Regions from separate parts of the Homo sapiens genome. Here regions 2 and 3 are each linked to region 1. The links come from fine-mapping of genetic effects on gene expression. A gene starts in region 1. Each other region holds a variant in brackets. All regions are shown on one strand. Distances are from middle to middle. Region 1 holds the start of DHRS1 (dehydrogenase/reductase 1). Region 2 holds the start of LOC124903292 (a long non-coding RNA gene). Region 3 overlaps ADCY4 (adenylate cyclase 4).

Evidence for each region. PIP is the estimated chance that this variant, and not a neighbour inherited with it, causes the effect.
Region 2: its variant is the best candidate, but not a certain one, in a credible set for the expression of DHRS1 in monocytes after LPS (Fairfax 2014, PIP 0.87).
Region 3: its variant is the best candidate, but not a certain one, in a credible set for the expression of DHRS1 in lymphoblastoid cells (TwinsUK, PIP 0.62).

The regions. Positions count from the first base shown.
Region 1 is chr14:24,294,193-24,302,541 of GRCh38, forward strand. It overlaps DHRS1 (dehydrogenase/reductase 1), which reads right to left and starts at 5,588. Exons shown (of 9, transcript NM_001136050.3): 1 at 5,389-5,588; 2 at 4,765-4,938; 3 at 2,546-2,689; 4 at 2,317-2,396. The coding sequence starts at 4,914. NOP9 (NOP9 nucleolar protein) reads left to right here and starts at 5,658. Exons shown (of 10, transcript NM_174913.3): 1 at 5,658-6,009; 2 at 6,216-6,665; 3 at 7,420-7,530; 4 at 7,773-7,914; 5 at 8,040-8,232. The coding sequence starts at 5,763. RefSeq lists an enhancer at 4,142-4,932.
Region 2 is chr14:24,380,729-24,391,605 of GRCh38, forward strand. It overlaps LOC124903292 (a long non-coding RNA gene), which reads right to left and starts at 8,681. Exons shown (of 3, transcript XR_007064086.1): 1 at 8,417-8,681; 2 at 4,792-4,906; 3 at 3,193-3,233. The variant A/AT (reference allele first, on the strand shown) is at 7,787.
Region 3 is chr14:24,315,208-24,323,721 of GRCh38, forward strand. ADCY4 (adenylate cyclase 4) reads right to left here. Exons shown (of 25, transcript NM_001198568.2): 17 at 8,137-8,247; 18 at 7,697-7,881; 19 at 7,417-7,501; 20 at 6,859-7,017; 21 at 4,535-4,681; 22 at 4,122-4,229; 23 at 3,891-4,005; 24 at 3,447-3,571; 25 at 3,152-3,361. The coding sequence ends at 3,209. It overlaps LTB4R (leukotriene B4 receptor), which reads left to right. Exons shown (of 2, transcript NM_001143919.3): 2 at 430-2,829. The coding sequence starts at 445. The coding sequence ends at 1,503. Among named protein-coding and RNA genes, the nearest start is that of LTB4R, 8.0 kb to the left of the region's middle. RefSeq lists enhancers at 873-1,373, 6,405-7,364. The variant CT/C (reference allele first, on the strand shown) is at 5,885.

The DNA.
Region 1 (8,349 bases):
AAGACAGAAACTATAAAAGACTGACAGATTTGACGTAAAATTAAGATACACACACATACACACACAAATACAAAGATACATGTATATTTCTGTGTATATAAAGAGCAGGGCGAGGCTGAGTATGGTGGCTCATGCCTATAATCCCAACACTTTGGGAGGCTGAGGTGGGTAGATCACTTGAGATCAGGAGTTCGAGACCAGCCCAGCCAACACGGTGAAACCCCGTTCTCTACTAAAAATACAAAAATTAGCCAGGCGTGGTGGCAGGTGCCTGTAATCCCAGCTACTCGGGAGGTTGAGGTATGAGAATCGCTTGAACCCAGGAGGCAGAGGTTGCAGTGAGCTGAGATTGCACACTGCACTCTAGCCTGGGTGACAGAGCGAGATTCCACCTCAAAACAACAACAACAACAACAACAACAACAACAACAACAGACGAGTGGGGGGAGTATGCGTGTGAAAAATGAGTGATAAATTGGGAAAAATATTTGTAAAATAAATGCCAAAGTCATTTGTTTCACAGTGATCTCTTATAAATTAATGCGAAAGTCAAAGATGATTTACAAAAGAACAAAGAGCCAATAAACAAAGGGGAAAAAAAGTTCAACCTGACAAATAGTGGAAGAAGTATGAATTAAAACCCCTTTATATATTTTCGGCTTATTATAGTAACAAAGCTTGCCTGAGTGCATGAGCTGACGCTGCCTGGTGTGGTAGAGGACATGGGGAAACACATATTCCCCTTCATTGTCTTGATATAAAAAATTGGTAGGGTCTTTTTGTAGGAGAGCTTGATAATATTTATTAAATCTTTAAAAAGTACATATTCTTTGTTTTCTTTTCTTTTTTTCTATTTTTCCCACAGTCTCTATAACCTAAGGGAAGTACATATTCTTTGATCTAAGAATTCCACTGCTGCAACAAATAAGGGATTAGAGAAATAAATGATCATACATCCTCCCAATAGAATACGTACAAGTATTAAAAAGAATGAGAGATATTTACATGAAAAATCTGAAAGAATATATGCCAGGCTATTAATAGTAGCTATATATCAGGCAAGAGAGCAAGGGATGGCACTGAGGGGAATAAGATTATACTGGTCTTCAGATTTTTTCCATATTTAAAAAAAGTAACACACACATAACTTGGTAACCAGAATAAATTTCTTTTGCATAGGGAAAGAATTAGGACCTTCCAAATGAAAACAAGTAGAGTTATAGTTTTAAAGGAAAGTGCAGCCCAAGGTAATACAGAGGAAAGGCAGTAAATGCGCATGGGGAATGGGTGGGCAGGAGGTGCTGGGGGGCTGTCAGGGGCTCATCAAGGGGCCTTTACCTTGGATAATTCATCAGGGCCCAAGGTCGAGGGTCTGGGCCTCTGCCTTGAATCTCTGCTTCAGGGTCAAAACCCTGGCCAGCAAGAGATGAGGGTGTGGAAGGCACCTCTCTTTGGAGGCTATGGTCATGAACACTGGCCAATTTCCAGCTCTTAACGTGTCCCTTTCTTGCCTTTGGCCTCACCATCCTCCTCTGTCCTAATGATCTTCCTTCCACTTTGGAAATCACAATTGCATTCTAATCCTGCTTCCTTGGGATTGTTACCAGAGTACCAAAATTGGAGCGGTGGGTGTTCTTACATGCTTTAGTCACAGATTTGCCGATAATCTCGTGGTTACTCCCACAGGTGACTGATCACATCCATCAGGCATGACTTGATTATATGAGAGTGTAACATCATTCCAACAGTAACAGAGGCATAACTGGTGTGCATTATGCTAGGCGAATTCTAAATGCTGTGTTTCATCTCACTCCTGGGCTAAATGACCCTGTGTGACCCAGTGATGTACCTGCTCTCCCAACTCTGACCCGGCAGTGCCCTTGCCTGTGGGTGTGGAGTGAGGATGTGGAGACTAAACAGCATTGGTGTTCGCTCCTTCTTCTTAAGCTTCTCCCAGTCTAAAATAAAACAATTTCTCCCTCTAACCATTTTGAAAGTATAGACTACAGGCTGTGCGCATTACTGAGAGGAGGAGGCTTCCTCCCTTCTGGGTCTTGCATTTGGATGGGCAGAGAGTGAGACAGGAGAGAGGCCAAGGGCTTGTTCCAATGAAAATTACTGACAGAGTTGACATTCTCAGGTACAGACTCACCTGGATGGAACTTCTCCAGAGGTAAGTGGGACAAATGGAATGGAAGGGAGAAGAAAGAGATGGGGGAGGCCGGAGGGAAAAGGAGAGGGCATGTAAGGAAAGGCCTGGCCGTCGAGTTGGCTAAGTGAGTGAGGGAACATGGGTCCTGGCAGTGGAGCACCCACCTGAGTCCGACGTTGTTGATATCATCCCACATGGAGGCAGGGGTTTCCCAGAATGCCTTATTCCTGGTGTTCAGGATCGTCTGGAAGGCACAGGGAGGGTGATGAATGATCTGAAGGTAGGGAGGTGTGAGGGGCTGGGTAATGGAAGGGACAATGAGTGGGGATGAAGATGCAGGGGTCTGAGGGGGAGGTCAGAAATGTGGAGTTGGGAACAAAGTTCAAAGGGTACCTGGACCCCTGCATAAGCATTGTTGACCAGCACATCTAGACGCCCTTGCTGTTCCCGATCCACTTGCTCAAACAGGCTTCGCACTTCACTCTCCTGGCTTGAATCGCACACCACAGGCACACATTGGCCCCCGAGGGATTGTGCCTGGAGTAGGACAGGGGATATGAGCTCACATTCACACATGGGTGTGAGTCATGACAAAACTCCCCAACCAAAGTGGGCTTGAGAACTGAGAAGACAATCAATCCTAGGAGAGCCTGCTGCAGAGGCAACATGGCAGGCAACGCTGCCCTCTGGTGTCTGTTTGAGTAGTTTCAGGAATGATAGGCCTCCCCACCACAGAGCAAGGTGAATTGCAATGTAAGTTTTAATAATCTACAAACATTTACTGAGGCCCACCATGTGCACAGCATTGTACTTTGCAAGTAGAGGGTAAGAACAAGTGAGGCATGGAGTCTGCTCTTGAGAAATGAGTAAGCATCCTTTTCCTTGTTGTGGTCATTTCCATCTCTCATGCCCTTAGCTCCCACCCTACACTACTCACCTAAAACCTCTACTCAGTCCCAGTTGTCTTACCCTCACTCCACCAATGCTCCTGGTTGGTAATTGAAAAAACCAAAGCTATCAGCCATGAATGATTTCTACTTCCTGTTCTGTCTCACTCTCTACAAATGCCCACAAACCTCCAACTTCAGAGGAAGAAGAGTCCTTTATCTAAGAACAATCCTCCTATTCTCCAAATTTATGCTCTGGGTCCCCGCCTATTACCCTCCTTGCCTGAACTACTGCAATGCCTCCCAACGACTCACCTGACCTCCAGTCTGTCTGCCTTAAATTAATTCTTCATAATCCAGCCAGTACGACCTATCTAAAACACAAACCCTGTTCAAAATCTCCTAACTGGATCTCCATCTCTTAGAGGATGAAGCCTGAGTTCTCTATTAGGGTCTTCCAAGACCCACTCTTTCCTCTCCAGCCTCTCACTCACTACTCTTCCCTTGCATTATCTCACACATCTACTCTTTCACACAGCGTCCCTATGCTTATGGAGCTCCCTCTGCTGGAATGCTTTTCCTAACTTCCTTTACCTAATTCTTACCTTTCAAAACTCAGTTCAAGAACCACCTACCTCCTCCAGGACGCTTTCCCAAACCACTTTCCCTAGCCACTCTCCTATGTCATCTGGATGCTCCCCAACACCCCTAGAGTATTCTGTGCATATCTCCCTCTTATAATTTACCATATTCACATTACATTGAAGTGACTGCTTTCTGTACCTGACTTCCTGTTGGAATCTATCTTCATTTTTAATTAAAATTTTTTTTTTTAGAGACAGGGTCTCACTGTCACCAGGCTGGAGTGCAGTGGTGCAATCATAGCTCACTGCAACCTCGAACTCCTGGGCTCAAACGATCCTCCTGCCTCAGCCTCCCAAGTAGATGGTACTACAGGTGCAGGCCACTGTGCCTAGCTAATTATTTAAAAAATATTTTTTGTAGAGACTGGGTCTAGCTATGTTGCCCAGACTGGTCTCCAACTGCTGGCCTCAAGTGATCTTGCTGCCTTGGCCACCCAAAGTGCTGGGACTACAGGCATGAGCCACTGTACTCCACCATGGACTGAATCTTTGAAGAGCAGAAATTAGATTTTATTAGTCTTGGTAACTTCAGTGGTTTACCAATGCCTAGCAAATCATGGATACTCAAATATTTATTTAACTGAAGTCTAGTAAATAAGTAAAAAATGTGCAGTTCAATAAAGTCTTGCCTGAAATAGAGGAAAGCACAGGTCCACAACCCTTTAGTTGCAATTCCAAAATCTCTGCTCTCAAACAAAAAGTTTTTTACTTTTCTTTCTTTTCTTTTTTTTAATACAGTGTCTCGCTGTGTCGTCTAGACTGGAGTGCAGTGGTGTGATCATGGCTCAACTCCTAGGCTCAAGCGATCCTCCTGCCTCAGCCTCCGGAGTAGCTGCTGGGACTGCAGGAACGTGCCACCATGCCTGGCTCAAACACAAAGTTTTTTCATAAAACTCACTTGGCGGCAAAATTCTACCTTACCTGAAGTTATTTACGGGGTTTTTAATTTCCACTTTGAATAAATATTCACATCTTGTTGAGTAGTATTATAGTTTCAGGTAAGGGATTAGGAAAGGAGCTGTTAAGTGGAAGGGCTCTCTCGGGTGGTTTCTGCAACTGTGGTCCCAGAGGAAGCACTCACCTCCTGAGCAACAACGCGAAGGGTGTCCAGATGGCGGCCAGTGATGTAAACTGTGGCGCCTGCTTTGCAGAGCTGCAAGGCAATGCCACGGCCAATACCCCTGGAGGCACCAGTCACCACACACACTTGGCCATTCATGGGAGCTGCCATGACTCACAGGCAAAGGAGGCAGGTCTGTGGAAGCAAAGACTTACTCTGAGGGAAGCCTGGAGACTGTGTGTGTGTTGGGGCGAGGTTGGGGGGTAGGGGAGAACCTCACTAGGGCTAAGAGGAGGAGCCAAGGTAAGAATCCTTTGAGGGGAGAGGAGTCAGAGGCTGACAACTGGGTGCGGGCCTGAGGACAAGGCTGACTGTCTTTTGGGAGGCCCAGAGAGTGAAGAAGGGGCTGAGTGGGACTGTCCAGAGGTGGACAACTACTACAACCCTCTGAGTGTGGCTGCCTGGATATGGGAATCTGGCGCGGCAGCCCCTCGGGGCGCGTCCACGCAGAGTCCTGGGCTATCTGAAGCTCCGGTCCCTGGCCTGACCCAGTCCGGCTGAGCCAGAGGCGCAGCTTCCGGGCCGGGGATGAGCGCGAAGCCTGGAGATCCTAAGCCCTAAGTGGGACGAGCGTGCGCCGCTTACCTGCCACCTGCGCTGCCGCTGAGGTCTGCAGATTGCGGGGCTGCGGTGGAAGTCTGGGTTCTCGCCCAGATTGAGCCGGCGACGTGGAGGCAGTGTTCAAGGATTGATTCTGTAGTAGGACCCGGGGCGATTCTGTGCTGAGGTAGAGGGGCAGAGTCCCAGGCCAAAGTTAGAACCTGCGGATGGGGGCGGAGCGATCTGGGTGACACACCCACCCCGCCCGGCTGGGGCGGCGCGGAACTATGACGTAGTAGCTGCGTCAGGAGCGCGCCCGCGTTTCTAAACTTTGTCTGGATAAGGCGCACGCTTGGCGACGTCGAAGGTCCGTCCGCAGTTAAGGAAGCTTTTGCAGCCGGACAGGTCGCGAAGCACACATGGGGCAGGGTCCGCGCTCTCCACACAAGGTGGGGCGCCGGTTCCCAGCTGGTGGCAAACGGGGGCGCGGGGCCAAGGGGTCGGGGCGCCCCTTACCAGGCCGTAAGCGGCAACCCTGGCCGCCTCCGGATGGGCGCTCGGAGCCGGCTCCAGATTCGCACCCGCACCTGAGCCCGGAAGCTCTGGGATATTTCCGCCGGGCGCTGTCAGCATTGAAAGAGGCTCCCGAGACTGGGGAAGAACGAGGTAGGCAGCAACTTCGGGGTTTAGACCAAGAGCATCAAATCCAGGGCAGGCAAGGAAACTTTCTAGGGTCGGCAGGGCGTGGGGACTTAGTTTCATTTCCCATGTCCTCTTCCTCGGCCTCCGACCCACGACCCTTGGTTAAGCGAGGGTACATAACTGTATTCTCTACTAAGTCTCTTCAAAGTGTGTCTTTCTTCCCTTTTCAGATCTGATGGTGCACAATATAATGAAGGAAGTAGAGACTCAGGCCCTAGCTTTGTCCACGAACAGGACTGGCAGTGAGATGCTGCAGGAACTGTTGGGATTCAGTCCCTTGAAACCGCTTTGTCGCGTGTGGGCTGCTCTGCGCTCTAACTTGCGCACTGTGGCCTGTCACCGATGCGGGGTCCATGTATTACAAAGTGCTTTGCTACAGCTCCCTCGATTGCTGGGGAGTGCTGCAGAGGAGGAGGAGGAGGAGGAGGAGGATGGAAAGGATGGTCCCACGGAGACCCTGGAGGAGCTGGTCCTGGGACTAGCCGCTGAGGTGTGTGATGATTTTCTTGTCTACTGTGGAGACACACATGGCAGCTTCGTGGTCAGAACTCTGCTTCAGGTGTTAGGAGGGACTATTCTGGAGTCTGAGAGAGCCAGGCCCCGTGGTTCCCAATCATCTGGTAAGTATTACAAGAGGAAAGTGGACCTAGGGGGAAGAAGAATTTAGAAAGTTCAGAATGAGACAGTAAACAGAAGAGTAAGTCTTCATGGGGGAGCTTGACCGGGAAGAATTAGCTTGACCTGTCCTAATCTGAACAGGGCTTAGCAAGCCAAAGATTAGTGTGTGCGGAGGCCCAGAGGTAGGGATGTACAGTTGTGTTTGGGGAAGGCTATTAGAATGGACGCAGGAGGAGAATTTTTTTTAAGCATGACTTAATATACAAATGGACTTAAGCAAAAGTAACATACACACTGGACTCAAGCAAAAGTTCAGGAAACTATACCCTTACTACATGCAGCCCACTCTGTTATTTTTTTTTCCTTTTCAAAACTATTCTGCTCTATTTCATTTAAAAAAAATGCTAGTTGAGACCACTAACTTGATTTCATGGTACAGTCTTGAGCTGTGATCCACATTTTGAAAAACTAGGAAATAAAGTTAGCGAGTTTAAATGAGGCTTTATTTTGGAATGGCTTGAATACCTGGCTGAGGAGGTTGAACTGTCTTCTGTGGACCATGGGGAAGCTGGTTGAAGTTTCTTAGAAAAATTAAGACAGAAATGTAGTCTCAGTTCAGTCATCCAGAAGAGACATTTAGTTGTACTACATCTGTTCTGCATCTCCAAGCGGAATCCTTGTTCATCTGTGAAATTTTTCTCTCCTGGATGGCAGTTTGTGATCTCCCCACTGCACATGTTCTTAATCTTCCTTCAGAAGCACAGAAGACCCCAGCTCAGGAATGTAAGCCAGCTGATTTTGAAGTCCCTGAAACCTTTTTGAATCGCCTTCAGGACCTGAGCTCCTCCTTTCTGAAGGACATTGCAGGTAAGGAGGGAAGTAGGAGGATGGTCTCGTATCTACTTGTCTGGAGGTCATCTTACCACCAAGCAAGGCCCTTACCTCAGGTTATTCCTCTTCTTTTCAAACCTGGTCTGGTTTGACGTTCAGAGCACTTTGTATAGTCCCTTTGTGTCCATAGTGCCCTGTATCTTGTTGCCTAAAGTTTGAGGTTACGCAGGTTGTCTGGATTTTGGGAAAGCCGCTTTATTTCTGCCCTCTCTCCACAGTGTTTATCACTGATAAGATCTCCAGCTTCTGTCTTCAAGTGGCTTTACAGGTTTTACACCGCAAACTTCCCCAGTTTTGCGCTCATCTCTGCAATGCTGTGATTGGCTACCTGAGTACTCGCGGTTCCTCAGTAGATGGCAGGTATGGTCAGGGCCTCAGGATCGACCCAAGTTGGCGGGGCTGTGTGAAATGAATGAGGTGATGTAGTGCAACTGTATTTTGCATGAAATGGAGTTAAGACTGCCTGATGCCCTTCTTGTCCCTAGTCCCCTACTGCTATTTCTCCGAGATCAGACGAGTTCCAGACTCCTGGAGCAGGTCCTGCTGGTGTTGGAGCCCCCAAGACTCCAGAGCCTCTTTGAGGAGCACTTGCAGGGGCAGCTGCAGACCCTGGCTGCACATCCCATTGCCAACTTCCCTTTGCAGCGCTTACTGGATGCAGTCACTACCCCTGAGCTGGTGAGTTGGAAACCTGAGCTGGATCTGTTTCTGCTAATTCTTGATCACTGGACCTTATTTTATGGTCTGTCTGCCTCTATATACCTTTGACATTGTGCTGGCCATTGCCCTTGAAAA
Region 2 (10,877 bases), 88 kb after region 1:
GGATTACTTGTGTTTGAACCACTAAGGAGGTTTTTGTTTTTGTTTTGTTTTTAATACAGATTCCTAGGCAACACTTAACCTCCTTGGGAGGGAGGGCTGGACCCAGGTATCTGCATATTAATGAATACCTTTGGTGATTCTTCAGCACAGGAAAGTTCAAGTACTAGAGTCACCTGCCAATTGTCATTCCTTCCCATTCCAGACTCCAAAATAGCCCACTGCCCCGGTCTCTAAATCTTGTCTAGGCTGCCCTGGGTAGAGAGTCAGCTGGTGAAGAGGAGGAGATGGGCACACAAAGTCCTCACATTGCAGTTCATCCTTCCCCTCACCTGGCTCTGTCCTGCTAGCTAGAGAATCTGAGGATGGTCTCAGGCACAGCCTGAAGCCCCAGTACAGGAGCATCTGCCCTCTGAACTTACTGAGTCTCCTTCTCTGGCTGGAACTCTGGGCCTCCACGATGCTTTGGGGAGTGGCGTGTTGTGCAGCTTTCCATTGGGGTTTGGGATCTGCTTGGATTGAGTTCTGTGATGCCTTGGAACCCACTGCTGGACTTTCTACATTGTCATGGAGAGGAATTCCTGGAAATTCCAGATGCAGAAAGTGCACAGGGGTTTGGCTGCTTTTTTGGGAGCCTGTTTTAATGGCCTCAGTGTCTTGACTGTTCAGGTAGCCAATTCCCCACAAAGTGCTGCAGGGCCCCTGCTCTGTGCCAAGCCCTGTGCTAGGCTCCAGGGACATGCATCTCACTGCGGCCTTGACCTGGAAGAGCAGACTCTCTCTCATCACTAATGAGAGAGACCTTCCTGCCTAGAGACTGAGGTGAACAGAGCAATGAGTAATGGTGGGGAAGTCCCTGCGGCTTTGGGATGTCAGAGAAAGGCACTGAATCTGTCCTCTCTCGCTGCTTGTGTATCTCTTGTAGTAACAGTAGACAATTACGTTTTGAGATAACCTGTGAGTCCATCCCTTATGGTGGGAACATGACATTCTCTGAAAGGAACAGATGGTCCCAATGTTCATTCTACTGGAATAAAGAGCGTCTGGGGTCAGGAAATGGGGATTTGTTACTGAGGCCTTGGGTAGAGTTAGAGGAAGCATCTCTCTGTACTTCTCTCTCCTGGGCGTGAACCCTGAGGGCACTAGTTAGGCCAGGCTGTTCCCAAGCAGCCCCCACCAAGGTGAGGGAGAATCCTGGCAGGGCCGGGAGCCAAGGGCCAAGTGGCAAGGAGGCAGCTCCATTGCTGGGTGGCGCTCTACTTTTATGCTCCTTTGAGCAATTCCTTTCAGTTCTTCCTGGATGTCTTACTTTCCTAGGGCTGCTGAACCAAAGCACCACAAACCGGGTGGCTTAAAACAACAGAAATTTATCGTCTCACAGTTCAGGAGGCCAGCAGACTGAAATCAAGCTGTTGGCAGGGTCGGTTGCTTCTGCAGGCCCTGAGGGAGGATCTGTTCCATGCCTGTCTCTTAGCTCCTGATGGCTGCTGGCAGGCTTTGATGTTCCTCAGCTTGTCGAACCATCACTCCAATCTTGGCCTCTGTTGTCACATGGCTGTTCCCTATGGCTCCTCTGTGTCTGTGTCCAAATCTACCTCCTTTCTCTTATAAAAGACACTGATCATTGGATTTAGGGCCCACCCTAATCCACTATGACCTCATCTTAACTTGAATACATCTAGAAAGACCCTGTTTCCAAATAATGTCACATTTACAGGTACTGGAGCTCAGGACTTGAACATATCTCTTTTGGGGACCCAACTGAATTCCCTACACTGGGTTTCCTGCAAAATTTTGTCAGTCATTATGATCTCAATTTTGCTATGGAAGGTTAAGTAAAAGTGCCCGTGTTTGAGTCCAAGTAGTGAAGGGGAGAACATCGTCTTCTGATGCCAGCTTGGTAGATGCAGCCATAATTCATGGGATTCCCAAGGGAAAGGTGACTTTTGAAGGAGGAAAAAGTAGGAATTTGAGGCCCAAATCCTCAAGAAATTCTTCCTGTCCTGCTGCCCTTAGACAATCTTGGTGTTATTTTATTTGGGATGCTGGCCGACTGTAGATTTACTTACAACTACATTTCCAAACTGGAAAGAGTTAATAAGATGAAAAAGGAGTAAGTCATTACATGAGGATGGGATTCTTCATGAGTATTGTATATTAAAAGCTCTGAGGAGTCCTCTGAGAAATCCCATTAGCTGTTTAATCCAGTGTTTCCCAAACTTACTTAATCATGATGCTCTTTTCTGTAGGACAGTACTGTGTTCATTAATTACTCCCATGTAACACATTACCCCATAACGTAGTGGCTTAGAACAACAATGAAAAACTATTTCTCAGAGTTTCTGGGGGTCAGAAACTTGGAAGTAGCTTGGCTGAGCAGTTTTGGCTTGGTATCTTTCATGAGGCTACAGTCATTGGAAGTGTTGCTGGGACTGGAGGATCCATATTCTAGGTGGCTCAGTCACAGGGCTGGCAAGTGGGTGTTGGCTGCTGGTGGGAGGCCTCAGTTCTTCACCCTCTGGGCTCTCCACAGGGCTGCTTGTGTGTCCTCATGACATGGCAGTTGGGGCTTACCCCACCGTGAGCTACCCAAGAAGCCAGGGTGGAAACTTCATAACCTTCCCTTGGAAGGAACTGTCACCTCCACCATACCCTATTAATCACACAGACCAGCCCTAATTCAGTGTGGGGACACCAGAAGGTGAAGGTCATATGGTGCTATCTTGGAGGCCGAGTGCTACATTAATTAATTCACTCAACCAATATTAACCAGTACCTAATAGTGCCAGGCACTGTTCTAGACACTGAGGATACAACAATGAACACAACAGACATACACTTGTCTCCATGGAGCTCACATTCTAGTGATACTTCATTCAATGCTTGAGACAATTTGGGAAATGCTGTTTCACAGGTATTTGGAACAGTAAGTGAGAATTGTGAATACAGAATGATAAATGTGGCCAGGTGCAGTGGCTCACGCCTGTAATCCCATCACTTTTGGAGGCCAAGATGGGCAGATCGCTTGAGCCCAGGAGTCTGAGACCAGCCTGGGCAACATGGCAAAACCCTGTCCCTACAAAAAATACAAAAATTTGCCAGGTGTAGTAGTGCACGCCTGTAGTCCCAACTACTTGGGAGGCTGAGGTGGGAGGATCACTTGAGCCTGGGAGGCAGAGGTTGCAGTGAGCCAAGATGGTGAAACTGCACTCCAGCCTGGGTGACAGAGTGAGGCCCTGTTTAAAAAAAAAGAAAAAGAAAAAAAGATAAATGCTAAAACAGGAGAGAAACTCACAATATCAAGGGAATGAGGTCTCCTGACATAGGCTTGGAGAGTGGTCAGGGATGGTTTCCTGAAAGAGGTAGACGTGAAGTTAGCCAATCACAGGAGGAGTGGGAAGAGGAAAAGTGTTGCAAGCAGATGGAACAGCATGTACAATGCCCCAAAGCTTGATACAGTTGGAGAACGAAAGTGGCAGGAGCATACTATGTGTGTATATGTGTTATGTGTGTGCTCGTGCATGTGTGTGCCTGCCCATGCATGTGAGGTGGGGAGAAGAGGTGAAAGATGAGGTTAGATGAGGTAATTTGCTGTGGGAGGGGAGGCACAGAGATGTCAGTGATGGCATCCATGTGCCTGGTGTCAATCACAGTGATAGAGTATAGACGGGGAGAGAAGGGAGTGGAGAAAAGGAGTAAGAGAGGTTTGGGTTGGTTATGAAATGAAGAACTCAGTTTTGTTCACACTGAGTACAAGCCATCTTTGGGGTTGTCAAGAGCCTGTTACAGGTTAGCAATTCCGCAACTGCTTTCTATGCATACCAGTGTTGAACAAATAAGTAAATAAACTGTCGCTAGTGGGAGGCAGGTTTCTCACTGTCACAGAAAGAAGAGGGGTGTTAGGATGGTGGTGGTGCTGGATTTGAGCTGGAGATATCAGCATGAATTCATGTGCATTTTAATACATATATGTACACTCAATAGTATAGAATATCTTTAATAGATCCATATAGATATCTTTATCTATCTATAGATCTCTATATGGATTTATAATCCATAGATGTCTATATGGTGTGTATGTATGTACAAACAGATAGAGAAATAAATATAGATATGGTATACACACACACACAAACACACACACATATATATATATAAAATGTATGTTAGTATATATACTTATATTTGTTAGCTTTGTCTGCAAAGAGGGCCTAAAAGAAGTGATACCCCATTAGCAACAAGAGTACTTAGCACCCAGATCTTGGTTTCTAAATAATATTCTCCAATAAAGGAGCCAGGGTTCCTTGGAAAAATGGTTAATTCTTGAGCTGGGACAGGGAACACATAAGATGATCCTGGAACAACTTTTAGTGCCAGAAAATAAAGAAGTGCAAAAAAAAAAAAAAAAAAAGGGAAGGAAGGGGCATATCAAAAGGACACAGGAGCCAACCTGAAAGAGCTCCCAATGGCCAAATCTGGAACAGTTTGAGCAACGGTAATAGATAATAATATTGGATTATAACTCCAAGAGTAAAATAAACCTTTATGAATCCATACTGATGTAAATAAAGTCTTGAATAAATAACTAAATGAGAGAGAAGAACTAAATGCAGAAGAATTCTAATTATAAATGTATAAGGAATAAGGAAAATAGAAAATCAGTATTAGATCATCACAATAATAATTGCTACAGGCAAGATCCATTGATTAATGCTAAAAGCAGTAGATAAAACTTTAAGGAAAAACAGGACATTTGCAAAGCCTTCAAGTATCTGCCCCAAAATACATGAATACCTGAGTGGTTTTCACACACTATCACAAATTCTTTGATTTCCCTTTCTCCAGGAGGTGCAGCTTATTTCCTCTTGCCTTGAGTGTGCTCTGGACTTGGGGACCTCCTTCTTACGGACTATGGAAAGAAAAAAACAGTAACTTTACAGTAGAGAAACCTCACAAACACCACCTGAACCGAATGGTCAAGATGAAGATCACCAGCAATAAATCATGTTGACATCATGTGCCCCCATATACTGCAACGAGAAGCGCACATCACCTTTGTGCTACTCCTGCCAAAATCAACAACCTTAGTCTTTTCATGAGAAAACACCAGACAATCCCAGATTGGGGGACCTTCTACAAAATACCTAACCATGAGTCTTAAAAAGTGTTGAAATTTAAATTAAAAAAAAATTTTTCTTAAATAGGGTCTTACTCTGTTGCCCAGGCTGGAGTGCAGTGGCATGATCATTGCTCACTGCAGCCTTGGCTTCCCAGGCTCTAGCAATCCTCCCACCTCAGCCTCCAAGTAGCTGGGACTACAGGTGTGCACCACCACGCCGGGATAATTTTTGTATTTTTTGTAGAGACAGGGTTTTGCCATGTTGCCTAGGCTGGTCTCAAACACCTAAGCTCACGTGATTCACCCACCTGAGCTTCAAAGTGCTGTGATTACAGGTGTGAGCCACTGTGGCCCACCCACTTTACATGTTTTAATTCTAAATTTGCTGCAATCCTAAACCAAGGCTCAGAGCAATTGATTAAAAACAGCAGCAGCAGCAGAAGAAGAAAATACGTTAAGGAGGCCGGGCGCTGTGGCTCACACCTGTAATATCAGCACTTTGGGAGGCCGAGGTGGGTGGATCACTTGAGGTCAGGAGTTTGAAACCAGCCTGGCCAACATGGCGAAACTCCATCTCCACTAAAAATACAAAAATTAGCTGGGCATGGTGGCGCAAGCCTATAATCCCAGCTACTCGGGAGGCTGAGGCAGGAGAATCGCTTGAACTTGGGAGGCCGAGGTTGCAGTGAGCTGAGATCGTGCCACTGCACTCCAGCCTGGGTGACAGAGAGACTCTGTCTCAAAAAAACAAAAACAAATAAACAAAAAAAAAAACAAAAGAAGAAAACACGTTAAGGAGTATTATCTGCTCCAGGAGGCTTGACAAGCCCTTTACATACATAGCTCATCTTATTTAATCATCTCCCAACAATCCTGAAAAGTCTGTCCTGTTATTATTCCCATCTCACAGGTCAGGAAACTGAGGCACAGAGGGTTTAAGTAATGTCTGGAGTTCCACAGCTTGCCAGAGACAGAGCTGGGATTTGAAAGTCTATTTCCTAACTCCAGGTCCGGCGATCTTTTCCACAACACTGCAGCCAATTCCCCACCACATGGGTGAAATCAGATGAAAAGTAAACATCTAGGGCAGTCTTCAAATGAGGCAGCCAGACAGGCCACAGATCGAACTTCAGACTTTTAACCAAAGGTTCTGGGATTCATGCTCCCAGTTGGACACTGTTTACTTCTTAAGTAGTAAAATGAATGGGGTTGGATAGATCCAAACAGTGCCTAAGATCCCTTCCAATTCTAACACTCCAGGAGTTTATGTTTCAAAAGAACAACCTGCAGAGGAGCCTGCAGAATGGGACCCTCCCACTCAGGGTGGCCTGGTAGAATATAGGACATGCATGTCCCACCCCCAGTCCTCTCTGCAAAAGGTAGAGTCAGGGAGGGGAATATGGGCTGAGTGTTCGTACAATGAGGCTGGTTTTTAGCCCCCACGCACTCCCTTTCCCTACTGCATTCTTTTTTTTTTTCTTTGAAAGATGCTGCTCAGCCTTGGAGAGAAGTCTTCTTCATCCCTGATGGCAAAGGGCAGAGGAAGAGAGACGCCCAAGGGCTCGATCAGCCTTGGTACCTTGCCAACCCCCAGTCCCTAGCATCAAAGGTTTTTCCAAGACAGAGTAGGTAAATTTCAATTTTATTTTATTTATTTATTTATTTTTTTTTGAGGCAGAGTCTCACTCTGTCACCCAAGCTGGAGTGCGATGGCACGATCTCGGATGACTGCAACCTCTGCCTGCCGGGTTCAAGCAATTCTCCTTCCTCAGCCTTCCTAGTAGCTGGGATTACAGGTGTATGCCACCATGCCTGGCTAATTTTTTTTGGCATTTTTAGTAGAGGTGGGTTTTTGCCATGTTGGCCAGGCTGGTCTTGAACTCCCGACCTCAGGTGATCTGCCCGCCTTGGCCTCCTAAAGTACTGGGATTACAGGCATGAGCCACTGTGCCCAGCCTCAATTTTATCTTGTGTTGTTTTTGTATTATTTTCTCCATCCTCAAAACTCGGACACTTCCTAACTTAGCACCCATTGGCTACTGCTCATAGTCCTGCCTGGTTTGGGGTTTCCCAGTTTGGGGTGGATCTGGCTACACTTCATTTTCTGCCTCCATCGAGACTCCCTATTGTTTCTTTGAGGTTCCATTAGGTCAAGGCAAACACTTCTCTTGTTCTCCCAACATGTAGCAAAATGTCACAATTCTTTTTGGCTCCGTTGTTCATTAGCCACTCCATTTCGTTATTCTATTTGCACTACTTCATCATTGAGCAAACTTTTTTTTTTAATAAGGATTTGTGATGGTTAATTTTATGTGTCAATTTGGCTGGGCTAAGTGATGCCCATAGAGCTGGTAAAATATTATTTCTGGGTACATCTGTGAGAGTGTTTCTGGAAGAGATTAGCATTTGAATTGGTAGACTAAATGAAGATCTTCCCTCATCAATGTGGGTCCACATCACTCAATACATTGAGGGCCTGAGTAGAACAAAAAAGTAGAGGAAGGGCAAATTATCTCTATTTGAGCCCAGTCGTCCATCTTCTTTTACCCTCGGACATCAGAGCTCCAGGTTCTTGAGGGAAGGGCACACATAGATTAGTGTTTTCTGCACAATCAGTTCACTCACTTCTCCTTGTCTGACCCATGAATGTGTCCGTATCTTTTGAGGTTC[A/AT]TTGGTTCAGATGCTACAGACACCACCCTTCCCCAGGCTGCTGAAATGACTTTCAAACTTGGACTGAATTACACTACTGGCTTTCCTTGTTCTCCAGCTTGCAGTCAGCAGATTGTGGGGCTTCCTGACCTCCATAATCACATGAGCCAATTCCCATAATCTCTCTCTCTGTCTCTCTCTCTGTTTCTGCTATTGGTTCTGTTTCTTTGGAGAACCATGACTAACACAGGATTATAGAAACTGCAGGAGAAAATGTTAGTGCCTGTTGGGATTAGAAAGGCACATACGATAAAGCCCTATCCTCAAGGCTGCTGCAGCTGTGATAGGAGCTCCTCTTACAGCTCCATTTATTTGTTCACAAAGGATTTACTATGTGTTAATTATCAGGCAATGGTAGGCACTCAGGATACCAAGATCAACAAGATATGATTCCTGTCCTCAAGCAGTTCACACCTAAGAGATCACTAACTGGTGACTTGAGGCATTTGATTGGCAAGATGCCTTAATTATTTCTCTTTGTTATCTATGGCTGTGTAACAAATCACCCCAACTTAGTGGCTTAAAACCACAATAATTTACTTTTCCTCACAGTTCTGTGGCTTAACCTGGTGATTCTCCTCCTGGTCTCACCTGGGCACACTCATGTGGTTGCATTCAGATGGCAGTTTAGCTAGTTGGTCCTAGACAGCCTCACTCCCAAGTGTGAAGCCTCAGCTGGGGCGGCTGGAATGGCTGAGATGAGTTTCCTTCTGTCTGCCCATGCGACTTCTTTCTGCCGGTATCTCAATTTCCTTCCTTCCGGCTATCCTGGGCCTCTTTACACAAGAACAGAGCATTCCAAGAGGCTCAAAGTCAAAGTTGCAAGACTTTTTGAGGTCTCGACTCAGTGTTACAAATGTTACTCCCACTGCATCTTATTGGCCAACACAAGTCACAAGGCCAGGCTAGAACGGGGAGGAGGGGGAATAGAATTCATCTCTGATGGGGGAGCAGCAATGTCCCATTGTAAAGGGTGGGCAGATAGAGATGGGAGGAATTTGTGGCCATAGGTTGCAGTCTACTACAGCTGCTACAGCGAAACAAAATTAGATTTCACATAAACGTCAAGTTTACAATATTTTTTCCTTAACAATGGGGAGATTTGGCAACAAGCCACTGGAGCTGAGTAACTGCTGTGCCATTTAGACTGGACGTTCTATCTCTAGCCCATCATAGTCTCTACCACTTCTTTTTTAAAGAGTTGGGTTCTTGCTCTGTTGTCCAGGCTGGAGTGCACTGGCATGATCATGGCTCACCGAAGTCTCGACCTCCTGGGCTCAAATGATCCTCCAGCCTCAGCCTTTAGAGTAGCTGGGATTACAGGCACTCACCACTCCAGCTAATTTTTTTTTTTTTGGTAGAGGTGAGTTTTGCTTTGTTGTCCAGGCTGGTCTTGAATTCCTGGCCTCAAGTGATATCCTCCTGCCTCGGCCTCCCCACTACTGCTTTATTTATTTATTTTTTTAGATGGAGTTTTGCTGTGTTGCCCAGGCTGGAGTGCAGAGGTGCGATCTCAGCTCACTGCAACCTCCGCCTCCCGGATTCAAGCGATTCTCCTGCCTCAGCCTCCCGAGTAGCTGGGACTACAGGCATGCGCCACCAGACACAGCTAATTTTGGTATTTTTAGTAGAGACAGGGTTTCACCATGTTGGCCAGGATGGTCTCAGTCTCTTGACCTCCTGATCCGCCCGCCTTGGCCTCCCAAAGTGCTGGGATTACAGGCGTGAGCCCCCGCCCCCACCCCCACCTATCGCTTTTTAAAGGTGAGGAAATTGGGATTTCCAGGGCTAGGATGTAGTAGTCTCTGGGCTACCGATATCAGAGTCTGTTTTTAACTACTGTATTCAACTGCCATCACCAAATGGGTTCTATGGATAATTACATGGGAAACCACTGCTGGGGAGTTACTAGAAAAGTTTGAGTAAGCTCATGCCACAGAGCAAGTGATGCTCTTCAATTAACTAGGAGTCTGGATTCAGAGCCAAATAGGGGTGAGGGAGGCGAATGGTCTGGTGGCTGCTAGATCAGTTTGAAAGTCATTTCAGTAGCCTGGGCCAGGGAGGTGTCTGTAGCATCTGAACCAAATGAAACTCAGAAGATATGGACACATTCTTGGGTCAGACAAGGAGAAATGAGCGAACTGGTTGTGCAGAAAATACTAATCCAAGTGTGCCACTTCCCTCTGAGAAACTTTGTAGGCTCCCTCCTGCCTATACCTGCCAGTCTCAGTGGTAACACATTGTTCTGTTAAAAAAAAGAGGCTGTAATGTAAGCTATGGACTTCGGTTGTTAATGTTGGGTCAATGTTGGTTCCTCTATTCTAACAAAAGTATCACACTGGTGCAGGATGTTGATAGTGGGGGGAGGCTGTGCACATGTGGGCACTGGAGGCATATAGGAAGTCTCCTTTCCACTCAGCTTGGCTCTAAACTTAAAACTACTTTAGAAATAAATTCTATATACACAAAAAGTGGAGGAGGAGGATGGTTTCTGAGGTAAGTTTAGGAAACTTAGGTAAATAAGTTGATTTTTAAAAAAACTGCGGGGCTTACAGCATTGCTTTTACTTCATAACAATATAGTCACAAAACATAATTATGCAATTGCTTTTTTCAACTTTGGACGCAGGCTCCGTGACAGCAGGGCACTTACTCATTGATGTATCGCCAGCACCTAGAATGGTTTGGCACATGGTGGACACTTCTTAGTACAAGGAAGAAGGGAGAAACAGTCAACTCGCAGGACTTAATGATTGACTGGCTGAGAGAAGTGGGGGGCAGTTAGCTTCAGAGTGGCTTTGGTTAGTCATAACCTTGCTAGAGACTTCCCAGAGCTCCCACTCCCTGTCCTTCTCTGCTTGACTACTAATGGCCTGAGACCCCTCAGCCTCCATGGGACCAGCTTTTGCCCTCACCCTGCCATCAGTGGCTCCTAGGCATGTGCCCTTCATCCACCGTGCTCACTGACCCTCCTTCAGCCCTCCAGCCTCCTGCAGATACTCCCCCCAAAAGCCCCTTCCGCACAGCTTGGAAGCCCAGCCCAACACCCTTCG
Region 3 (8,514 bases), 21 kb after region 1:
GACAGTAGGCAGGTGATTGGGAAAGTTAATGGGATTGAGGGGCTGAGGGCCTGGCAGGGGGCAAAAAGACTGGCCTTTCAAGGGGTGCAGCATTGGTAGGAACTCTGTTTGGTTCTGGGCTTTAGGGTCTCCTAAGGGGAGGAGACTGAAAAGGTCTGGAAATGCTGCTGCTGCTGTGGTCACTGTATATTTTGCAATTGGGTCTGTGGACAGGAAGGGGCCGCATGACCCAGTTAGGAAACTAGTCTTTGTACTCAACCAGATCCCTTTAAGTTGTCAGTCTGCAGCGATGGGGGCAGTATATTTCAGGGGGACCTCTGATGCTGCTGACCCTGGAGATAGACTAGAGTTCTCAGCCTAGGTGTGTCCATGGCGTCAGGAAACCCTTGGTCCTCTACTCTCATGCGTGTGTCCGCCCTCACTCTCCAGGTCCTCCCGACGGCCATGAACACTACATCTTCTGCAGCACCCCCCTCACTAGGTGTAGAGTTCATCTCTCTGCTGGCTATCATCCTGCTGTCAGTGGCGCTGGCTGTGGGGCTTCCCGGCAACAGCTTTGTGGTGTGGAGTATCCTGAAAAGGATGCAGAAGCGCTCTGTCACTGCCCTGATGGTGCTGAACCTGGCCCTGGCCGACCTGGCCGTATTGCTCACTGCTCCCTTTTTCCTTCACTTCCTGGCCCAAGGCACCTGGAGTTTTGGACTGGCTGGTTGCCGCCTGTGTCACTATGTCTGCGGAGTCAGCATGTACGCCAGCGTCCTGCTTATCACGGCCATGAGTCTAGACCGCTCACTGGCGGTGGCCCGCCCCTTTGTGTCCCAGAAGCTACGCACCAAGGCGATGGCCCGGCGGGTGCTGGCAGGCATCTGGGTGTTGTCCTTTCTGCTGGCCACACCCGTCCTCGCGTACCGCACAGTAGTGCCCTGGAAAACGAACATGAGCCTGTGCTTCCCGCGGTACCCCAGCGAAGGGCACCGGGCCTTCCATCTAATCTTCGAGGCTGTCACGGGCTTCCTGCTGCCCTTCCTGGCTGTGGTGGCCAGCTACTCGGACATAGGGCGTCGGCTACAGGCCCGGCGCTTCCGCCGCAGCCGCCGCACCGGCCGCCTGGTGGTGCTCATCATCCTGACCTTCGCCGCCTTCTGGCTGCCCTACCACGTGGTGAACCTGGCTGAGGCGGGCCGCGCGCTGGCCGGCCAGGCCGCCGGGTTAGGGCTCGTGGGGAAGCGGCTGAGCCTGGCCCGCAACGTGCTCATCGCACTCGCCTTCCTGAGCAGCAGCGTGAACCCCGTGCTGTACGCGTGCGCCGGCGGCGGCCTGCTGCGCTCGGCGGGCGTGGGCTTCGTCGCCAAGCTGCTGGAGGGCACGGGCTCCGAGGCGTCCAGCACGCGCCGCGGGGGCAGCCTGGGCCAGACCGCTAGGAGCGGCCCCGCCGCTCTGGAGCCCGGCCCTTCCGAGAGCCTCACTGCCTCCAGCCCTCTCAAGTTAAACGAACTGAACTAGGCCTGGTGGAAGGAGGCGCACTTTCCTCCTGGCAGAATGCTAGCTCTGAGCCAGTTCAGTACCTGGAGGAGGAGCAGGGGCGTGGAGGGCGTGGAGGGCGTGGGAGCGTGGGAGGCGGGAGTGGAGTGGAAGAAGAGGGAGAGGTGGAGCAAAGTGAGGGCCGAGTGAGAGCGTGCTCCAGCCTGGCTCCCACAGGCAGCTTTAACCATTAAAACTGAAGTCTGAAATTTGGTCAACCTTGTGAGTGGGGTACATGTGCTGTGGGTATCGGGGTGCTCGTGGGCGCCCTGGTGGGGCCCCTCTCGGTAGTTGAGAGTCACGTCCTTTAGTTCCCCATGATTTACAATTTTGGAAGGGACACAAAGAAACATAGACTTCCCCCATCCCAGATGATTCCGAGTACATAGTCTGCAGATAATACTTAGCAAAACGCAGTCTACAGACTCCTAAAGCAGCTTGTCTAGGAAGACCACCCATGTGGGCTTATCACTCCAGGTTCTGTGACCCGGGACCTTCTGAGAAAACAGCACTGCTGTGAAATATCTTCCTTGAAGCCTGTGATAAGTCTCCTTGTTAGAATGACTCCAACTTCCTGCCAATAATCTTTGTCCTCTCCATAGGAGATGTTCTAGGGGATGCCTTCCTTCCCTCCATTTCACAAAGAGGCCAGACTTGAGGACTAAGTCATTAGATCTTATCCCTTAGAATTTTGCATATCAGCATCTGCTAACCTCCACAACACACCCTGGCACAGGGTGGGGCTGAGGGCCCCAGGAAACAAAGATTCCCAAAAGTGAGAGGGATGAGTCATTATTTCCTAGAGATGACTGTTGTTTTAGAGAACCTTGGTCCAACTCTGTTCTGACAAGGTTTTAGGAAGATGGCAACAACAGTGGCAGCAGTGTACTTTTTGGATCTTTCTCATAAAAAAACAAAAGAGCAAGTAAGAGAGGGAAACCAAATATCCACATGCAACATCCGCAACAAATCTAGTATGTCAAGGTTTGACATACTCCCATGGACCCCAAAGTATGAGCCAGTGAGAATGAGTCATCAATATCTCAAGACCCATATACCAGCATCTGTGCAGAAGGATGCAGAAGGAAGCAAAGGGATGTTGGATGGACCTAAGAAGAGGAGATCCCCAAGCTGTCTACAGATCCTTACTGGAAGGTATGGTGCACCAATTTGAGAACAGCAGCTGAAACTGGGAGGGACCTAACGGAGTATTTCCCAGTCCTCTCGCCCATTCTGTATGGTGAGCACATAATAGGTACTTATTTAGTGTTTGTCGAATTAATAAAGTTCAAATGACATTTCCCTGGAGATTCTTCCGGTATTTTTGAGTAGGGGGCAGGAAAGGGCAAATTTTTGTTTTGAGTCATGTGGCTAAATTCTTTATGCTTCCAAGGTGTACAAAATACTATAATCAAGTTGGCAGAGAGGCTGAGGGAGTTCTCTTCCTGAGCTTGTGAAAAAAATCACTCCCTTTCAAAATGCTTAGTCTCACATGCATGCATGTGTGCAGGCATGTGCACACACATTCACACACACACTCGCACTAAAATTGGCCTGGGAAGAAGAAGAATTCCCACTGAAGGGCAATGAGAAGGTGATCCCCAGCTATATCAGCAGCTTCAGACATCAATGGGCTCCAGACACCCCAGAGTCTCTTTATTGAGGTTCTTAGAAGGCGAGTGCAATCTCAGCCTAGGGTAGCTGAAGGAGGTCCAGTTCGTGTCAAGTCTGTGTTCAGGAAGTAGGTGCAGAGCTGCCCTTTGCCTTTCACCTTGATGACACCCCGGCTGTAGCAGGTGTAGCCCAGGGACTGTAGGGCCCATGCTGTCTCCTCAGTCACCTACAATTGGAGGGGGGCGAGGGAATATGGAGGTGGCCCTATTCTTAGTCCCCCTCCCCCTATGCCTCCAATGTGGTTCCCTCACTTGGATTTTGCCAAGGACTCCTGTACTCTCCATGCGGCTGGCCACGTTCACTGTGTTGCCCCAAATGTCATATTGCGGCTTCTGGGCCCCAATAACTCCAGCTACTACGGGTCCATGGTTCAACCCTAATGAGGGATGTGGTAATGACAGACTTGGAGAAGGAAGAGGGGAAGAGGAAGCCACAAGGAACTGGAAGGAAGGGAGAAGAGCCTGGGGGGCCCTAGAGGAGAGGAGGGGTCTCTAAGGGCTGGAGGAATGTAGCTTAAGAAAAAGAGTGGGAGAGCCTCGTACCTCCTTGCCCAGCACCTTCACACCCCATCCCAGGGAGTGAGTCAGGAAAGGGGCTTCAGGATGAACTGGGAGCAGCTAACAAAGGACTTGGAGTGGGGCAAGCTCAGGAAGGTGAGGAGGTACCAGACTGCTGCAGCAGGGGAAGTCTCTCACCCACTCGCAGGCGGAAGTTGTTGAATGAATGCTTGTTGATGACGTCCAGCTTAGACCCCAGGGCCACGGCAAATTCCACCATAGTGCCAAGGTGGCTGCAGCTCCGTTCAGCATCCTGGCAATGGGCCCGCCCACCAGGGTGGGCCAGTGAGGGCACAGGAATAAGTCCCACTAATAAGCCCATCAATGAGAGCCCAGAGGAGGATGGTAGGTAAGGAAGGGTTGCCGTACCTGTTGTGCATCCTGTCCAGAGGTGGCATTTAAGCCTGTGGCTGCCATGTAGGTGCTGCCGATGGTCTTGATCTTCTCCACCCCACTGAACTTGGGCTTGGAGAGCAGCTGTATATAGAGAAGAGTCCTGTCCCCAGTCTCTCTTACTCTCTCCATCACCTCTCCCAGAAGCCCAGCCCCAAGCCTTTGGAGTTAAAGGATCAGGCTGTGGGAGTGGAGATAGTGTCAGGAAGGAGAGGGTTGGTGGTGGGCAGTGTTGCTGGAGTGGGTAGATCTGGGGGATCAGAGGAGGTGAGGGAGTACTGTGGAGGGGAGGATTGACTTCATGGCCAGAAAAGCAAAGTGGAAGGAGGTACTGGTGGAAAATTCTAGAATCTAGGACATAGGGTCTGGGAGACTCTTGGAATTTTCACCTCATCAAAATCAGCAATTATCTCATTGAGCAGCCTCAGACACTCTAGGCCCTCATGATTGATGTTGGATTCAGAGTAGAACTCCTTGAAGTCTGGGACTGAGGCGAAGAGGACACAAACGCATTCATAGGACTGGTGGTAGAGATCCTGGGGGAACAGGAGACTGGAGTGAGGGGTGTGTGTCATGTTCCTCTCCCTTCTAGAGGTCTGCGTGGGGCCCTCCTCCCCATGTCCACACTCCTGGTCTCCCTGTTTAAGAAGAATTGGGAAGGAGGGAGAGGAGTAGGGCCAGGCTACCCCAGGGAAGTGACTTAGGAGTCAAAGCTTAGATCTCATTGTAATTCTAGAAGAGACAGAGGTTTGGCGTTAGGATCACCTCACAGCAACACGAAGGGAGTCACTCCTAGAACTGGGATCCTGTCAATGTGAATTATTTCTATATCCTATCTTATTGCTGAAAGGTGTTTAAGTCAATTAAGCCGGCTACAAAACCAAGGGTAAAATGTGTTTAAGTGTTTAAGTCAGTTAAGATAGGTACAAAATGAAAGATGAAGTAAGCAACAATAGGGACTATGAGGCAAAGGGAAAATAAGGGTAAGATAATAAAGATGGAATCAGATCTGAGGGTGGTTCACAAAATGAGTGCCATGAAATCCTATTTAGTCTTAGATTTTGGCTCTCAGCTTTCTAGCAGCCAAAGTGAAGAGAGAAAAGGATCGATTACAAGATTCCTTGTGTCTGTAAGAGAAGAAACCAGAAAAGAACTACTGATCTTGAGAGCAGGGAGCAGGCGGTGGGGGCATAAGGCTGTGAAAGAGCTCCTGAGCTGTTTCTTTTAACATCCCTCAATATGAGCCAAGAGCATTTCCACAGCAGAGGGCCAGCAGATGATACAAATAAGATGGTACAAATATGTGGGTGAATTTCTGATGGTTTGGCGCTAGCAAGATTTTTGAGGATCTAGAGCAGCAGCATCCAATAGAAATTTTTGCAATGGAAACATTCCCTATGTGCAGTGTCCAATAGGGTGGCCACTAGCTACGAGTGGCTGTTGAGCCCTGGAAATGTGGCTGGTGCAACTGAGGAACTGAATATTTTATTTTAATTAATTAACATTAAAATTTCATATGGCTAATGGCTACCATATTGGATAGTGCAGGTCTAGAGAGAGGGGTGGACTGTATCCTCTAGACCAGCAGTCCCCAACCTTTTTGGACCCAAGGATGGGTTTCATGGAAGACAAGTTTTCCACGCACCCAGGCTGTGGTGGGGGATGGTTTTGGGATGAAACTGTTCTACTTCAGATCATCAGGCATTAGTTATTAGGTTGGTGCAAAATTAATTGCATTT[CT/C]TTTTTTTTTTTTTTTTTGCCATTAAAAGTAATTACTTTTAGGCCGGGTGCGGTGCGCCTGTAATCTCAGCATTTTGGGAGGCCAAGGTGGGTGGATCACCTGAGATCAGGAGATCGAGATCAGCCTGACCAACATGGTGAAACCCTGTCTCTACTAAAAAAAAAAAATATAAAAAAAATTAGCCAGGCATGGTGGCAGGCGCCTGTAATCCCAGCTACCTGGGAGGCTGAGGCAGGAGAATTGCTTGAACCCAGGAGGCGGAGGTTTCAGTGAGCTGAGACCGTGCCATTACATGCACTCCAGCCTGAGCGACGAGAGTGAAACTCTGTTGCACTCCAGCCTGAGCGACGAGAGTGAAACTCTGTTGCACTCCAGCCTGAGCGATGAGAGTGAAACTGTGTCTTAAAAAAAAAAAAAAGTAATTACTTTTAATTATATTACTTTTAATGGCAAAAACTGCGATTAATTTTGCACCAGCCTAATAGATTTTCATAAGGAGTGTACAACCTAGACCCCTTGCATGTGCAGTTCACAATAAGGTTCAAGTTCCTATGAGAATCTGATGCTGCTACTGATCTGACAAGAGGCAGAGCTCAGGCGGTAGTGCTGGCTCACCGCTCACCTCCTGCTGTGTAGCCCAGTTCCCAACAGGTCATGGACTAGTATCAGTCTGCGGCCTGGGGGCTGGGGACCCCTGCTCCAGACAGCTCCCATCAACGCCTAGGCTTCTGGAATGTATGGAATGGTCATGAGTTAGAGAAGACATGCCTTCCAAGTAAGAATTTGAAATGCAGTTTTGTGCTCACCAAAGAAAGAATCTAAGATGTTGTGAAAACAAAGACGCTTGACAAGCACAAGGGCTTGGGTGACCCTTCTGGGGGTTCTAGAGAAAACGGGCCATAGGTCAAGGCTTTCATCTGAAATTAGGCCCTATGGCATCCGTGGCTCAGGAGTCAGGGGGTCAGGAGTCACCTCGTTGCGCCGGTTCTGGCCAATGAACTGGGGGGCCACGTGTGCAGGGAGCACGTTCTCCAAGAGCAGCCGAGTCAGGTTCTCCATCGTCTCTGTCTCCTCCCTCTCCTGCCTCAGCTTCTTCTTCCACAGGAAGTCCAGGCGGCAGTAGTACTCATTCTGGGGAGGGTCACCCGGGGCCATGGGGAGACACAGAGCAGGGGAAGCCCAGCTCCTGAGTGTTCAGCCCCAACTCCATGATGCCTGAAACCACCCCCACCCCACCCCCAGTTTAGAAGTAGAGCTTAAGGTGTAAGTATACTTGGAGAGAGACTATCCTTGAAATTAGATTCAGACTAGGGATAGAGAATTGGCAGCAGACTTTTTCTAAAGCATGGGCTTTCCCAGATAGGGGTGTGGGAGAAAGGAGGGGCAGGGAGTGAAGGAGAAGAAAGGAAGCAGGAAGGCTCGCTTAGAAGCTTCCAATGGGCATTCAACCCTGGAGATTAGAAAGATCAAGTCACAGATATGGGGGCCACTCATAGGTGGGCCCTGGTGGGGCTGAGCTGGGTGACTTACCTGGCGAGCCAGGACAAGGAGGGTGAAGAAGAAGATGAAGAAGGAGATAGCACCCATCAGTTTGGGCTCCTTCAGCACTCCGGGCCTGAAGGGGCCATGGATCAGGGTGACCCCTTGCTTTCCCCCTTCCTGGCCTTCTCCCTGCCCCCATGTAGGCCTCCGCTTCCCTCCCACTTTGCCCTGTGGGTGATTCAGGTCGGTGAGGCCAGGACAGCTCTGCTGTATCCCATCTCACCCCATCCCAGGGGGCCCGGCACCTCTGTCCAGCAGCTGTGCACACCTGGAGTCCAAGGGGCCCAGATAGAGGCGGACGATGAGGCATTCCGACAGCCAGGCATGGGAGTGCAGGAAGAGGGAGCAGGATGCCGCCAGCCACAGCAGGAGCAGCAGCAGCTTCAGCTCGAAGCTCATGTGCAGAAAGAGGGAGCAGGAGAGGAAGCCCAGCGTGCAGCAGTGCATGGAGTACTGTGGGGCCAGGCAGGGGTCAGGAGTGGGCATGTCCCATAGGCAGAGGGGGGACACCTGAGGGCTCCCTTCCTGTCCCTCCCAGGCCCAGGTCCTATCTGGGAGACAGGGGGCATCATACACACTGATACACACTGGGTGTGACTTATGTCTGTTCTAATCCACAGAATGGAGCGTTCCTCCACTCAGGGGGCTGTGGGCTTGGGCTGAGGAAGGGTGTGCAGAAGGAGATTAAGGGCATGTGGGAACACTCACTGGGACACTGATGAGAGGCAGAGACCCAGGGAGCTCCCAGGAGAGGTTGGAAATCATGGAGGACACATTGGGAGCTTGGAAAGGGCAGTCTGATGATGTTGGGAAGAAGAACTGCAGAGGAGATGAGGAGTTGAAGAGGCAGGTAGCTTCTTGGGCACAGTGGTGGCTTGTGCTGGGTTTCAGCTGACCCAGGGATGAGTCAGGGGAAGACTCGTCCAAAGGGGTGGATCCTGCTATTTCTGGTTGGGAAGGGAACCTCAGCACTGGGGTCCTCACTCGGGGAGGAGTTATGTGAGGGGCGTCAAGAGTACTCCTCTGACTCTGAGCCACTGTGTGAGCTCTTGCCAGCCACTTAGCCTCTCTGGGCCTTAGTTTCTT